Linked DNA regions of Homo sapiens: region 2 is linked to region 1. A link means that fine-mapping ties the variant in region 1 to the expression of a gene that starts in the linked region. Tissue or cell type: tibial nerve. Region 1 holds a variant in brackets; the other region holds the start of a gene. All regions are shown on one strand. Distances are between the middles of the regions.

Evidence for each region. PIP is the estimated chance that this variant, and not a neighbour inherited with it, causes the effect.
Region 2: it holds the start of KLK11, and the variant in region 1 is fine-mapped to the expression of KLK11 in tibial nerve (GTEx, PIP above 0.99).

Annotation. Positions count from the first base shown.
Region 1 is chr19:51,060,987-51,069,086 of GRCh38, forward strand. KLK13 (kallikrein related peptidase 13) reads right to left here and starts at 4,106. Exons shown (of 5, transcript NM_015596.3): 1 at 4,030-4,106. The coding sequence starts at 4,081. The variant C/T (reference allele first, on the strand shown) is at 4,447.
Region 2 is chr19:51,022,377-51,030,476 of GRCh38, forward strand. KLK11 (kallikrein related peptidase 11) reads right to left here and starts at 4,240. Exons shown (of 6, transcript NM_001136032.3): 1 at 4,162-4,240; 2 at 3,216-3,290; 3 at 2,262-2,418; 4 at 1,669-1,934; 5 at 716-852; 6 at 1-321. The coding sequence starts at 3,255. The coding sequence ends at 169. It overlaps KLK12 (kallikrein related peptidase 12), which reads right to left. Exons shown (of 6, transcript NM_001370125.1): 6 at 6,718-7,081. The coding sequence ends at 6,926. RefSeq lists enhancers at 3,319-3,877, 3,878-4,435, 4,995-5,551 and a silencer at 7,584-7,815.

The sequences.
Region 1 (8,100 bases):
TAGGCAATATCTATCCATCAATCTATCCAATCATCCATCCCCCATTCATCCTATTGATTTGTCCATCCGTCTACTCATCCATCTATCCATTCATCCATTTAGGTAGTCATCTAACCATCTATCCATCCATCCATCCATCCATCCATCCAACCATCCATCCACTCATCTGTCCCTCCATCCACTGGTCCATTTATTCATCCATCCATCCATCCATCCATCCATCCATCCATCCATCCATCCATCCAATCCAACCATCCATCCATCCATCTATCCATATATCCATCCATGCATCCATCCAATCATCTTTCCACCCATCTCTCTATCCTTTCACTGCATATATACTGGTTGCCTCCATGGCTTTAAATACCAGCTATAGGCTAATCATCTCCAGCCCTGAACTCTTCTTTAAGCTCAAAACTCAAACACTGTTGATTTGGATGCCTTACAGGCATCTTAAGCTTTGTATTCCCAACTTGATTCTTCTCAATCAAAACTGTTCGCTCCAGTATTTCCCACCTCAGTGCTCAGCCCCAAACCTGGGAGTCATCTTTGCTTCTCTTCTTTCCTTCATCACTCACAACCAGTTCCTATTGGTTTTATCTCCCAAATATCCAGTTATCTCCACACTTCTGCCACCATCTTGGTCCATGCCCCATCTTCTGTAGCCCAAATGACTACAACATTAACCTAAATCCTTCCACTTTTACATCCCTCCGATCCAGTCTTCTCAAAGTAGGCTGAGGACTCTTCAAACAAAGAAAGTCAGATGTTGTTCCCAGGCTCAACTTTCTTTAAAATAAAATCCAAAAAGCCTTCCCAAGGTGTGCAGGACTCTGTGCTGTCTGGCCCTTGCCAGCCTCTTTGACCCCATCTCCAACCTCTTTCTTCTGACTTCCTCTAGTCCAGCCTCATGGGCCTGTTCTTCAAACACACCAGGCATTTAAAGAAAAGAAGAATTTAAATCATCTTGGATGCCCCCATACTAGACATTTTATACTTGCTATTTCCTCTCTCTGCACAGTCCTTTCTCCAGACCTATGTTGTTTAATATGGTAGCCACTAGCTACATGTGGCTATTTAAATTTAAACTAATTAAAATGAAGTAAAACTAAATTAAAAATTCAGTTCTTAAGTCACACCAGCCATATTTCAAATGTTCAATAGCCTGAAGGGGCTAGTGGATAATTGGACAGCACAGATATAGGATATTTCATATATACATATATGGAATATTCTACTGGATGACCCTCAGAATTTAGAGGTTGTATGTCTGGGTCCTTCTTAATTCTGAGAGGTCAGCTCAAATGTCTCCTCTTCAGAAAGGCCTTCCCTGACCACCTGGTCTAATGTTGACTCTCCTGGTCCCGACTCCTCCCCCATTACATTCTTCCAGTTGGTCTTCATCAGAACAATGATTGCTATTCATTTCTCTTCACATTTGTATGTATTCGTTTTTAAAAATCTCTCCACTTTGACTGTAAGCTCCATTGACAACAGGCACCTTAACTGCTTTATTCAGTACCATATTCCCAGGACCTAACACAGCGCCTGGCACACAATGGGGGCTCAATAAATAAATGCTGTGTGTGCCAGGCACTGTGTCTGGCATTGAAAGCACAGCAGGGGTCCGTGGGACAGGGAGAATCCAATCCTGAACATGCATGCCATTTTGTGACTGTGTGACCTTATGCAAATCACCAGCCTCAGTTTCCCCAGCTGTCAAGTAGAAAAAGTAATAGTTCATCTCTCATTGCGCAGTTGAAGAATTCAAGATGATCCTGCATTTCAAACCGTGCAGCACAGCAGGTGGCATGGAGAGCACTCAGTCAGTGGGAAATGTTATTATTAATTATTAGCTACAACAGGAGGTCCCTCTGCCTCCCTAGCTAGTTTCCCCAACTACAGGGCAAGCAGTTGGATTAGCTCAGTGGTTTGCAGTTAGGGACAGAAGTTGTCGGTGAGCACAGGATCATTTTAGATGGTAGAGAGATGAGATTTAAGTAACGTTAAATCGCACACTCAGACGCTGAACCAGCATCCAGTTCTCTTTTAAACCTGATTTTGTCAAGGATAAAGTCTCAGGATGGTGCTAATATGGTTTTAACACCTCCCTAATCCTCACTGAGCTCACTTTTCAAAGCCAGGAGGACACAGAAGCCTCATCAGGCCACCTAACATTTATTACACTGAACCATCTGCAAAAGTTGTTTTAGGAAGGTCAAAAAGGGTCAAGTATCAGCAATTTCAGGTGGTCCAACCCAATAAACATATTATTTTCTTTTCATTGTGCAGGATTTATTTCCTTCCTTACCTTCTATTTATGACAAAGAATTCTATTCTCTATTCAGGACAGTAATATAAAGTTGAACATGCTTTTGTTTGAGTGAAAAAAGAAGAAAAAAAGCTAACTTTAAGCAAATGATTAGGTCAAAAGTTATAAAAATGGTTTTCAGAGCCTCAAGTCCAGGATATGGACAGGGAAAACAACCTTGATTAGGATTCTGACTCAGGCATCGCCGGTGTCATTGGAGCAGGAGCCTTCTGTCTTTGAGTCCTAGGTTTCTCTGCCATGAAATTGGAGTAATTACAATGCACCTACCTCGCCAGGTTGTTGAGGACTCCACAAGGCGTAGCGTGTGGGTCTCCTAGCCTAGGGTGTGGCACTCAGGAGTGGCACGGGCATGAATCCAGGGAGTGTCGCCAGAGGAGAAAAGCCACCCCACCTTCAGGCCAAGGATGGTGCCAGGTGCCAGGCACCCACAGATCCCTCCTTTTTCAGGTCTTGGCTCAAGGGTCAAGCCCTTTGGGAAGGCCTCTGGTCGGGAAGCCGCCATTACATCTCTAGGCCCCTGGCTTGGCTCCTTGAAGTCTTCACCTCATGTCAAGATAATTATTAACTAATTATTTGGATAATTGTTTGAATAACATCTGCGTCTGTCCCCGCTAGACTCCAGGTGCTGAGAGCAGGGACTGTGTCTCTGCTTGTACAGCACCCAGCACAGTGGCCGGTGTTTAATAGCTGTTTGTTGAATGAATAAATGATTCATGAACGGGGTTTCCAGAGAACCTGCCTACAACGGCAGGGAAAGATGGGAAAGATCCATAAGGATCTTAAGGACTACCAATTTGGGGTGAGGTCACATAGGTTTGGGGTCAACCCAAGGATTAAAATAACAATCTAGAAGGTTCTGGAAGGGGCTGAGTATGAAGACAGAATACTAGAGGCCGGGCTCGGTGGCTCATGCCTGTAATCCTGGCACTTTGGGAGGCTGACGCGGGCTACTTGAAGTTAGAAGTTCGAGACCAGCCTAACCAACATGGCGAAACCCCGTCTCTGCTGAAAATACAAAAATTAGTTGGGCGTGGTGGCGGGCGCCTGTAATCCCAGCTACTCGGGAGGCTGAGGCAGGAGAATCGCTTCAACCCGGGAGGCGGAGGTTTCAGTAAGCCAAGATCGTGCCACTGCCTTCCAGCCTGGGAGACAGAGCAAGGTTCCATCTCAAAAAAAAAAAAAAAAAAAAAAAGGAATACTACTAATAAAGTAATAACGGCTAAGTGGCTAACTTTCAAGTCCCTTCTACCTGCGACATACTGAAGGCTCGACGCATTACCTCGTTTCAATATTCACAGTGACCTTCTCTGGTAAGCACTTATAGATTAAGCCCATTTTCCAGATGAAAACAATTTAGGCACAAAGCAGCTGCTAGGCTACTGGCTCAAAGCGGCAGCGTCAGGACGCGAACCCATGTCTTTCAGCTTTCCAGAGAGGACAGGAAGCCTTGAACGCGGGAGGGGCTGCTGCGAGGGTATTTTGGGAGGTGAAGGGTCTGGGGTCGGAGGGCCAACCTCAGCCGGGAAACCAGGTCACCCAGGGACAAGCAGGAAGAGCTCTGAGCTGTCCCCACTGGACCCGGCCCCGAGTGGGCGGGGGGCGGAGCTCGCGGCTCCCACGCCCCCTCCCCCTCCGGCCTGACCCCTCCTACCATTGTCCCGAATGGCCGCCGCGCCTCCACCCCCGCGCATTCTTACCTCCTGACAAGGCCAAGGTCAGGGAGGCGATCACTAGGGCCAGGGGCCACATGGCTCCGGGATCGGGAGGGGAGGGCAGGGCGGGCGGGGCCTGAGGAGAAGGTGAAGGGGGTGTTGAGGGCGTGCCCGGAACCTCCGCGTCTGAAACCTCTCTGCTCCTGAATGTCTCCTCGCCTCATTCACTCTTGACAGCCCTGACCCTGGAATCTGCCCCCCGCCTCCAATTCCATCCTTGGTGGGGGTGCAGTGGCGAGGTGGGAGGAACAGTGTGCAACCTCCTGGGGCTCCGGCGTGCAGCCCCTCACCCCAGGAAGCCGTCCCTCCTCCCCTGCCCTCTGGCGAGCTGGGTGGTCGGTGCACTCTCGCCCTTTTCCTCCAGAGTCTGCCTTCCATTCTACCCCTCTGGGTCTGTCCACA[C/T]GCTTGGTATTAGCCCAAGTTCTTATCTGTCCGCGCCCTTCGCCTCTCTCCGTCTCTGCAGGTTTCTCTCTAGATCTGAGACTCTAGCTTCACTCTCCCTCTCCCTGACTCAGCTGCCCTTCTGCTTTCCCCATCCTTCCTATCCCCTCTTCTCTCCCCTCCCTGCCCTCCTCCGCTCCCCGCCCCCGCCCCAGGCAGACCCTACCTGAGTGAGGGGCCCACGAGGAGCGTCAGCCGCCAGCTGTCTAGAACTTCAGCCCCGAACCATGGCTTTTAACCCCTGAACTCCCTCCCCCAGCTCACTCAGCATTTCCTGGTCCCTGGCCTCCCCCTCTCCACCCCCAGTGGCTCAGCGGGATGTCTCCAGGCACCCCCGACCTGGGCTTGGCCCTCTGCTTGGGGCGGAGCTTCCAGGACGTGCTGGGACCTAGGTCTGACCCCGCCCAAGGCAGAGTTGAACCCACTGTGAACTTTCAGGCCTCAGGACCCAAAAAAGGGTAAGGGGAAAGCCCATTTCCTTCCCCCTACCCCGCTGAGTTCCATGCCCATCCCTAACTTCAACCCATTCTGCACCCAGTTTTCTAACCTCTTCTCCAACCCCATGCATAATTCTTAATAGGCAGTCAGCCCCCAGATGGCCGTGTTCTATCAGATTCCCACCTCCCTATCCATCCCTAACCATACCAAGTACTCCAGCCTGTTCCTCAACCCCAGTCCCATCTCCAACCTCATCTCAGGTTTAGCTCTCAACACATCCAGGTTCCAATTCCCAGTCTCATCTCAACCCTTTTTCTTTTGAAAGACACAAGGACACCCACAATTATCCCATCATCCTGCCTCCCTGCTCCCGCCAACCACCGGACACAAGAAGGAAATCATCAGCTGGGTGGATAGAAAATCAGCTCCCTCGGACTTGGATGGGGGCAGAGATGCGACCTGAGAAAGCAACATTTTCCAGAAATGGCCTTTTAGGAGCAGGGCCAGAGGGGGTGAGGGAGTCCACGGGGACCTAGGTGGAGAGGAAAAAGCAGGAGCCGGAAAGCTTTGAAGACGTGGATTGGGGGTGGGGGAGAGGAAGGAGGAAGGGGTGGTGTTTTGAGAATGAGTAGGTGTCTCCAGGAACTATGACTGGGTGGAGCCCTGAGTTAATCCTAGGGGGTGGAGGGGACAGGATTAGGGATTAAGGACTGAGGTGGGGTCAGAATTTGGAAGAAAGCCAGGGACGTGGACCAGATGAAGTTTGGAAAGAGTGAGAGAGTGGAGGTGTCACAATGAGGATAAAGAATAGAGATGGATGGGGCGAGGGCTCACATGGAAACTTGTACAGTCCTTATTGATGGAGTTCAGATTTGGATGTGGAGATCAAATCTAGTGTCAAAGGGTAACTTTTAAAACATGGTCTTACCATGACTCTCTGACATATATGAAATGAACATGTGTCAAAGATTGTATCTTGACTCATTAATAAATGGCAGAGCCAGTAAGATGTTACAAAGAGCCATATGCACAGAGACAACGAGGAATGCTGAAATGAATTTACAAATAGATGCAAAACTGGCTATTCCACACTGGGAGGAGGAGGGAAATCCATTGTACTTCCACCTGGCAAAATTCATGTAAACATTTATGGACAAGAATTATTTGCATTGCTCTCAGATACCTACAATTTAGAGTCATAAAGTGGCTCAAAGACAGGAAAGGGTACAGAGACCTCATAAAATCAGATAACCCATCTAACTTTGCATTGGCGACACCTCAGTGTCCAATGTTGGGTCCATTTCAAAGTATTTTGCTAAGAAGAAAAATATGGCTTAATATAGGAAATCAGTAGAGTCTATGGTTAAGGATGGGCCTGATGACAACATTAGGAATGCAATGAGTTTGGGGAGGTGAATGAAAATTGGATGAGGATGGGTATAGAGTTGGAGGTGGTAGTTGAGCTGGTTTTGGGATAGGATTAGATTGTAAGATGGGAGGTATCTAGGGATAAGTTGGTGTTGGGGTACTGTTGGGTTGGGGCTGAAGATGGAACCAAGATTGAGGTTTTGGATGGGGAAATGTTAAGATGTGGTTGAGCTGGGGTAGTGGGTTGACATGGGTGATGAGGACTGGCCATGAGGTTGAGTGTCTATGATGCAGTAGGTTTTGGTGGGGGTGAGCTGGGTCATACCCCACCTCTCAAGGTGAAAGAAAGGTCACTGTCTTTCTCCACCCTGGACTTCTCCCACCTCACAGGGCGGGGTCTGAGTTCACTTTTTGAGTGGAATTGTGTTCAGGTGGTGTGGCTGGAGGTAGGATGCCAGGTTAAGTGCGGCAACCAGCTTATGTGGGAAATCGGGGTACTTGTACCCTCCTGTGACCTGGGTCCATGCTTCCAGAGAAGCCTTTCTCACTTGGGAAAAGCTGGAGCCTGGAGTGAGGGTGGTTGGCCTTGTTATTTGCTGAGGGGTGAGTGCCAGGTCAAATTGATGTTAGGGGTTATGATTGGCCGAACGCGGGTTGGGTAGCTCTGGTTGAAGTGAGGTCATGGACCCACTGAGGGCTGGGCACCTTCCACCCCCTCACTTGATGAACAAGCCCACGGCTGAAAGTCACACACAAACTGGACCAAATCCAAGTGCGCTTCTGTCACAGGTGCAGGTCTTTCCTCCACCACAGAGAACCGGGCTGGAGAAAGAAGAAGAAAGGACCCGAAAAAGAGATGGTGTTCCTAGTGGTTCTGACCTCAGACTCTGGAGCTAGACTGCCTGAGTTCAGATGATGTGACTGCTCTGTGCCTCAGCATCCCCATTTGTAAAATGGCACAATCAATAGCACTTGCCTTATGGAGAAGGGTTAACTGGATTAATACCCAAAAATGCTTCGAAGAGAGTGTGGCATGGACCAAGGGCCACAATGCTCCTGTTAAATAAGTAAAGCTTAAGATGGAGGCATCTGACGGTTCCAGGAGGCCCCTCCCTATCTTGGCTTCAAAATGGGATTCTTTGTCAAGCAGGAACTGGAACTTCTGGTTGGAAGTGCTAGCTGGGATGAGAAAGTAGGCCCCACACCCAGGCCCAGAGGAGGGGCCCCAACGCAAACATGAAGGGAGGGGAAGACTGAGAGATACAAAGGGCTAAATACACAGAGACAGAAAGATGGGGCAGGTGGGAGAGGACAGAAAGAAAATTCAGAGGACAGAGGCACAGAGATAGAAAGAGAGAGATGCCCAGTGAGAAGCAGACTCTTGGTGAGAAAGAGGCACAGAGAGTTGAGAAACATGGATTCTTCTTTAGAGCTGGATCCGTGTTATTCAGGATGTGGCTCCAGTCATCATGCATCCCAGGCAGCAATAACACATCGCTTTCATCCATCAGAATAGCAAAAATTAGAAAGGTCGGTCTTGCCACCTACCTGCGTGCCCACATCCTCTGTCTCCTCTCCCATTTCTCTAGATGAACAGTCTGCACCTGCAGCTAAGATAGATGCCTCCACTGGTGCTGGTATCCTGTCCTCTCTTGCCTTCTGGAGGGCATTGCTCCAGCCAGCAGTTCTCTGTTCTCTTTCCTGCAACATGTTTTCCTTCTTCTCCAAGGAGCAGCCCCATTAGCATGCAAATATACTACAGTTTCTCCCATCTCTCGTTAAAATTTGAAAACCAACCAACAAAAATTT
Region 2 (8,100 bases), 39 kb before region 1:
GATTTCGAACCCCAGGTTGATTATTAAGTGACAGCATCTCCTGTAGTCCAGGAGGCCCAAAGAATGTTCGTAGAGGGTCTTGGCTTAGGGTTTCTTATTAACAGAGTGAACAGGAACCAAACACCAAGTGGAAATGGAGGGTGATGGGCTGTGGTGGGTGGGTCCAGTCTAATTGTTCTTCATCGTCTCCTGGATCCAGTCCACATATTTGCAGACTTTCGTGTAGACACCAGGCTTTCGGGTGATCGCACACGGATCCTGGCCCCAGGAGATAATGCCTTGAAGAGACTGGTTACAGACCAGAGGGCCCCCGGAGTCACCCTGGGCACGGGGAGAGAGAATGTCGGTCAGAGAAAGCGTTGAGCATGGTGTTAGCCAGGGAGGAGGTGGGGACGGTGCTTAGGAGTGGGGCCGAGACAGGATGGGTAGGCACTGGGAAAGGTGATAGGTTTAGCGATAAAGCTGGGATTATGGGTGGGATAAAGGATGGGGTTAGGCTCAAAAACGAGTTTGGGGATGGTTGGAGCTGGAAATGGTGTGGAAACGGGGATGGAGCTGAAGTTTGTGCTGAGGTCAGAAACGGGAACAGGGGAAGAGATGGATTGGGAGTTGCAGGGGTCGGCGGGTTGAGGTTGGGGATGAAATTGTGGATGTCGGTAAAGATGTCATTGAAGCTGGGGATGGGGATGGGGCTGTGGTTGGAGACCACACTGACCTGGCAGGAGTCCTTGCCCCCTTCCTGCACGCTGGCACACACCATGGTGTCTGTGATGTTGCCGGGGTAGGCGTTCTCACACTTCTGGTGCTCAATGATGGTGATGTTGGCGCATCGCAAGGTGTGAGGCAGGCGTACTGTGGAAACAGCGTGAGGGGCTGTGGGAATGAGCCCCCTGCCACCTCCCCTAATGCAGTGCTTGCTGTGATCCCGCCCCTGGGGGAATCCCTGTCCTTAGACGCAGCCAACTCACCTCTCTTCTTGTAACAATAGCAACAGCAATGCTATCCAGCTTTTTTTTTTTTTTTTTCGAGACAGAGTCTTGCTCTGTTGCCCAGGCTGGAGTGCAGTGGCGTGATCTTGGCTCACTGCAACCTCCGTCTCCCAAGTTTAAGCGATTCTCCTGCCTCAACCTCCCGAGTAGCTGGGATTACAGGCGCACACAACCACGCCCAACTAATTTTCACATTTTTAGTAGAGATGGGATTTCACCACGTTGGCCAGGCTGGTATCAAAGTCCTGACCTCAGGTGATCTTCCCACCTCGGCCTCCCAAAGTGCTGGGATTACAGGCGTGAGCCACGGTGCCCAGCCTGCTATCCAATAAATGATTTATGTCAGTTGCTTGATATACATTATCTCTAATCCAATCCTGACAGGTGGGTATAATCATTCTCATTTTATAGAGAAGAAAATCAAGATTCAGAGAGGTGAAGCTGCTTGCCTAAGGTCTTACAACCAGGAGGTTATGGATGTATGATTGCATATCCCGTCCGTCTGACTCCAAGGCCCCAACTTTTGTCCCCACCCCCCTATCCTGACGTTTTCCACACATCCTCTCAACTTATCCCACATCGTCACTGTGAACCGCATCTCTGATGCCCTGAACCCTTCCACAATCCTGACCACTCCCTCCTCACCACCCCCTGCCAGGTTCCCCTCTGGTGCTCCTACACTGGGGGCTGGACGTGCTGCCCCAGCCGGAAATGAGGCAGCTGGTGCCAGCAGTGACACAGCGTGAGGAGAGGGTGAGGGGTCGCACAGCCCAGGTGATGGAGACTGGCGATGCCATCTTCACCAGCATGATGTCATTGCGGTGGTCTTTGTTGGGGAGGCTGTTGTTGAAGCCGGGGTGGGGGAAGGACTCAGTGGCTGTCCGGGTCTGCTCACAGCCCTCCTCCTTCTGGAGGTTGTGCTGCCCCAGGTGAACTATGTAGCGGCTGAGGTGGGAGAGACAGTAGTTGGAGGAGGAAAGGTCGGGGGAGACATGGGTGGGAGAGGTGAGTGACACCTTTGAGGATGAAGAAACATCGCTCTGCTTCCAACCTCTTCCACGTCTCCCACCGAAGCCCCCTTCCCAGCCATAGCCCCATCCCAACCCCATTCATCCCCCCACCTTCAATACCAACTCGAGCCCATCAACCTTGCTGACACTACCCATCCCCATCTCTAATCCCCTTACCAGCACCCCTATCCCTGAGCTTCTCTCCATCCATCTCCCCATTCCCAGCCCCCCACCCCGGCACCGCCCCAGCCCCCGCACCCACGGCTTGAGGCAGTGGGCTGCTGTCAGGAGCCATCTGGGGGCGATGAGCGTCGCCCCACAGAGTAGCCGCGTCTTCTCGAACAGGGCTGCCTGCCAGGGCTGGGAGTGAGGCTTGCACTCGAACCCCTTGATGATCCTGGTCTCTCCCCCTACAAGCCCTGGAGGGGGTGAGAGCAAAAGAAGGGGCTCAGGAAGGAGAGGTGGTAGACCAGGAGGACTCCCAGAAATGGGGGTGGGGAGGAGAGAAAGAGAGTGGGTGGTCTGGGCCCTGGTCTGGTGTCCCTCTGGGTTGCCCTGGATGCTGGGGTCGGGTATTAAAGGATGAAAATACTTCCATAAGGTCAAATGCAGTGGCTCATGCCTGTAATCCCAGCACTTTGAGAGGCTAAGGTGGGAGGATTACTTGAGCCCAGGAGTTCTAGATCAGCCTAGGCAAACATAGTGAGACCTCCTCCCCCATCTCTACAAACAATTAAACAATTAGCCTGGCTTGGTGGCAGGTGCCTGTGGTCCCAGCTACCGGGGAAGCTGAGATGGCTTAAGGATCACTTAAGCCCGGGAAGTCAAGACTGCAGTGAGCCGTGTTGGCACCACGGCACTCCAGCCTGGACAATAGAGCAAGACTTTGTCTCTGGGAAAAAAAAAAAAGGAAATACTTCCATACTGGTTGGTCAGTAGCCCCTGTCCTGGGCGCTTTGAGTGACTGCTCCCCCAACTCCAGCTTCCTCAGCCCCTCCACGGGACCCTTTACGACCCCCTTGACCTCTCCTCCTTTGGCATTTAAAGGGATTATCTAGAAGGGCATCCAGGCCCTCATGACCACTGCTCCAGTTCAGGTGCCTTATGGGTTGTTCTGTAATTTGGAATCAGCCCTGTCACTGTCCAGACACAGAGGGTTAGGGGATCCCAGAGATTCAAGAGGGAGGATCCTGCCCTGCCCCCATCCCCTGCGTACCTGTTGCCAGAGCAAGCAGGATTAACTGCAGAATCCTCATGGCCTGGAGGGGGGAGGAGCGGGCCCCAGGTTCCTCTGGGAACAAGGAGGGACATGGGGCCGCATCACTTTACGGGGAAATCGGGAGGGGGGGGCTGGCTCATGCCCTCTCCTCTCTCCCTCACCTGCTCCCGCTCCCCACTTGGGAGAAACAAGGTTGGGGAAATCCCCTGTTTCTCACAGCACTCAGATCTCCAAACACTTAAAATATATCTTAGGTGTCTAGGGTGGCCTTGGAGAGGGCCTGGTCACAGCTAGAAGCTTCCGAGATACCAAGAACCATGTGGAAGTCGTTGGGAGGGGCTTTGAGCTGTCAAGCCATGGTTCGGCCCTGTTCAAGTCAGCCATGGGACCTCCCCGGCACATGTCAGAGGATGTTTTCCTTCTTGCCTTGAGAGCTGGCCAGGCCCCAGCAGCTTGGGGTGGAAGGACAAGGGGAACCAGACACCGTTCCGTAGCCACCCCTTTTTCATTGTCTTCGCAGCAGAGCGATATGGAGCCTTTGAGGTCTGCTGGAGGGGAGTAGGGGGCTCAGCCCCAGACAATGTCTGGGACCCCCATCACCCGGCTTGCTGAAGCCCTGTCCGCCAAACCCCTGCCCTTTTGAAGGACAGCCAAGCAAAGCTGGGCGGGGCTGGTCGAGGGGAGGGCCAGTGCCCTCCGCTGCCCTGGCCAGCGGGGGTGGGAGCAGAGGGCCAGCTCAGCAGCTGAAGCCATGGAGATTAGAGGTAACTGAGGCTGCGGACAGCCATCGGAGGTGAGAGGTGTAGAGAGAGGCCAGGAACCCCCACCCAAGCAGAGAAGGACAGAGCAGAGGGAGAAATGGGTGCCCGAGTGGGACAGGTGTCCTTGGGGAGGGCTGACACCTGGACGGGGAGGGGCAGCTTCCCTTTCCTCCTGGACTCACAGGCTCTGGGGCTGGGGCTCTGGGGGCCCAGTGGCGGCGGAGACGGCAGTGGCGGCAGCTACAGCAGGTAGGCTGGGTTGGAGCGCCAGGTGCCAGGCACCAGGCAGGCGGGCTGGCAGGGGGGCGGCCCTGGGCGGGCCCAGGATGACTGGCCTCCAAGCCCTGCCTTAATGCCCCGGGGCGGGGTGTGTGTGAGGGCCCTCCCCGGAGGCCTCTGAGGCACTGGCTGCCTGCCTGTGCCACCTCTCCAAGCCCCTCTTCTCCCTGTGTCTCAGCCTCCCTCTGTCTGTCTGTCTGTCTGCAGCCTTCCTTTCCCTGCCCTGAGTCTCTGAATCTGTGTCTCGTTCTATGTGTCATTCCCTGTCATTCAGTAATTCTGACTTTGTGTGATTTTTCTCTTTCTGTCCCTATGTGTCTGTCTGCCTTTCTCTGTCCTCGTCCCTGTCTCCATCTCCACTCTTCTCTCTCTGTCTGGCTCTGTGTGGCCCTTTCTCTAATTCCTTCTATCTTTGTGTCTCTCAGTCAGTCTCTCTGACTGCATCTCTGGCAATTTGTCTTGAAATCCCTCTTCTTCCATCTAATCTCCGTCTCTCTTTTTCCTCCCGTCCCAGCCACTCCCTCTCCACAGCCCCAGCCCAGGTGGGCCCCTGGCCTCCCCTAGGCCGCTCCCTTCTCCTTTGCAAGGAGAGGGGGGGTGTGCTGGGATGTCACACAGGTGGGGCTGCTGCCAGGCACAGGGGCAGGACCGGAGGGTGGGGGAGGCAGGTCAGGGCCTGTGGAAGCCGAGTCCAGGAAAGGGAACAGAGCCCTTGGCTGTGCTCCACCCCAGGGCTCCTCTGGGGCCTCGCTCCTCTGCTGACCCTTCCCCTGCCCGCTTCTCCCTGCCGCCCAGGCAGCCCGAGTCCAGCTGTTCACTTACTGGCTGCTGTGAGACCTCTGCCCGATGACTTCCAGTCCCGCAGCCACCTCAACCTCTGCATCTGCGGAACCCGAGCGCAGATTCCTGCTTCTCCCAGCTTGTTTGTTTTCAGTTAGGTCCCTTCCCTTGGCTTTCCTCCCCTCTCTCCCCTGACCAGGTGTGGAGCAAGGCAGGGGAGGGCCTAGGTTCTGACAGCAGCCAGCCCTGGCCTCAAACCTAGGTGCTTCCTCTTCCTACTACTATGACTACCCTTATGACGTGGGGACAAGGGACTCCACCCCTGCAAGGCTCAGTTTCTTCATCTGAGAGATGGGGGTGACAGACCTGCTTGCAGGGGAGGTTGGGATCAGGCTTCCAGGAGGGTCCACTTGGAAAGAGCAGACTGCGGGGGGGCTCAGCAAATGTGCCTCCGCTGGTATGATCACCCCTCACTCCCTCCCTCCTCCAGTTTCCCTTCAGTGCATTTGGGGAGATGGTCTCTCCTCACCTCTTGAGTCCCAGTGGAGACAGAATCCAAGGGGTGGGCAGGAGGATTAAAGACGTAGGCTGAGCTCTCCTGCTTTCCAAGCCTGCACTCCACCCTTCGTCTTATTAGAACAAAGCCACGTCCCACATTAAAGATACAATGTATGCTTCATTACAAGAAAGTAAACTGCAGTTGGCTAGTGGAAAGAATGCTACGTTTTATGGACATTGGATTAAATGGTCATAAATGTTGACTTTGCAGCTTTCATCTGGTATTTTGGAGCTAACAATTTTCTTTTTCTTTTTCGGGTCTTTTGTGGACTCTTGAAAAGCTTATAAGCTCTGGGCACTATTTCTATTATGCCAGATGAAGAAACATGTGTCTTATTTATATTGCTGGGTTTTTGTTTTTGAGACAAGGTCTCACTTTATTGCCCAGGCTGGAGTGCAGTGGCATGATCTCGGCTCTTTGCAGCCTCCACCTCCCCGGCTCGGGTGATCCTCCCACCTCAGCTTCCCAAGTAGCTGGGACTACAGGCACGCACCACCACACCCAGCTAATTTTTTGTGTTTTTGTAGTGACAAGATTTCACTGTGTTGCCAGGCTGATCTCGAAATCTGAGCTCAAGCCATCCTCCCACCTCGGCCTCCCAAAGTGCTGGGATTACAGGCGTGGGCCACTGCACCCGGCCTATATTATTAAAAGTAACTTTTTCTACTCCATTTCTGAGTAACTACTCAGGGAAGACCCTCATCCTATTTGAGCACTGGGTTTTTTGTTTGTTTGTTTTTGAGATGGAGTCTCGCTCTGTCGCCCAGGCTGGAGTGTAATGGTTCAATCTCGGCTCGCTGCAGCCTCTGCCTCACGGGTTCATGCTATTCTCCTGTCTCAGCCTCCTGAGTAGCTGGGATTACAGGCATGCGCCACCATGCCTGGCTAATTTTTGCATTTTTAGTAGAGTTGGGGTTTCACTATGTTGACCAGGCTGGTCCCGAGTTCCTGACCTCAGGTGATCCACCTGCCTCAGCTTCCCAAAGTGATGGGATTACAGGTGTGAGCCACTGTGCCTGGCCTTATTTGAGCTCTGTTTCTACTCCTATGAGATAGGGAAACTGCTGAGTCCTTCTTCCAGTCTCAACCAGCATGAGGACTTCAAATGGACAGACATGGCCCCTCCTTCATTTATATTTATTCCAGACTATTGCACACTTCTCTCACCCCGCTCGTGGGTCTTAGAAGGGCTGGCAGGAGTTAAAGTTCCAAGAAGTTCCCAGGCCAACAAGAGTGGAGCTAGGGGAAGTGATGGAGGAGATATTGGTGCTCTGAGGGCCAGAGGGGTACCCAAGTTAAGGGGTGGGGGTGGAGGTGGAGGAAACAGGTCAGTTGTTCCTCATGATCATCCGGATCCAGTCCACATACTTGCAAATATAGGTGTAGACTCCAGGGATGCCATCTTGTCCACAGGGCCCCACAGACCCCCAGGACACCAGACCTTGAAGGACTCCCCCACACACCAGGGGGCCCCCAGAATCACCCTGGAAGGGAAGAGAAGTACTGTCTGAACAAGGGAGACATCTTATTTCTGTTTTCCTCCCCAACCCTTCAACCCAGTCCTGGGCCTTGGGGAGGGCTCCAAGTCTGGTCATTAGACAAAAGAGTATAATCACTTTCCCGGAGGACAATGGCAATGGCTAACCAAAAGAGAAGAACCACTGTCTCTAGGGGCCAATCCCAGGGAAGAAGGGTGGAACTCCATAAAGGACAGAGGTTCTCTCAAGGACAATGGCTGGGGCCCTGACCAATGAGGAGAGAGAGCACAGTCATTAATGACCAATCTCAGGGGAGGCTGTCAAGACAACATAAAGAGTCGAGCATTCTCTCAAGGACAATGGCTGGGGCCCTGACCAATGAGGAGAGAGAACACTATTATCAATGACCAATCCCAGGGGAGGAGGGTGGGACTCCATAAAGGATAGAGGTTCTCTCAAGGACAATGCCTGGGGTTCTGACCAATGAGGGGAGAGAGTGCCATCAAAAATGACCAATCCCAGGGAAGGTGGGCAGGACTCCATCAAAAGCACAGAGTTCTCTCAAGGACAATGGCTGGGGCCCTGACCAATGAGGGGAGAGACCGCCATCCTCAAATCTCTCTCAGTCTGGGACAGCACCAACTGGAGGATGGTATGGGAAAGACTTAGAGCCCCAGAAACAGCTGGTTCCCTGTCTGGGCTCCCAGTCCTCTCCGTCTGTTTTGCTGTCTCTCTCTGTAACCCCTGCCCCATCTTTCCTTCTCTGTTCCCTTCCTCCCTCTCTCTCCCTGCCCCTCCCCCTCCTCCATTCCCCGGTCCTCCCTTTTACTCCCTGTCTCTCTCCCTCCCTTATCCTGGGCCTCTCCTCCATTATTATTATTATTATTATTATTATTATTATTAATTATTTTGTTTTGAGACAGAGTCTGGCTCTGTCGCCCAGGCTGGAGTGCAGTGGCGTGATCTCAGCTCACTGCAACCTCCGCCTCCCGGGATCAAGCGATTCTCCTGCCTCAGCCTTCCAA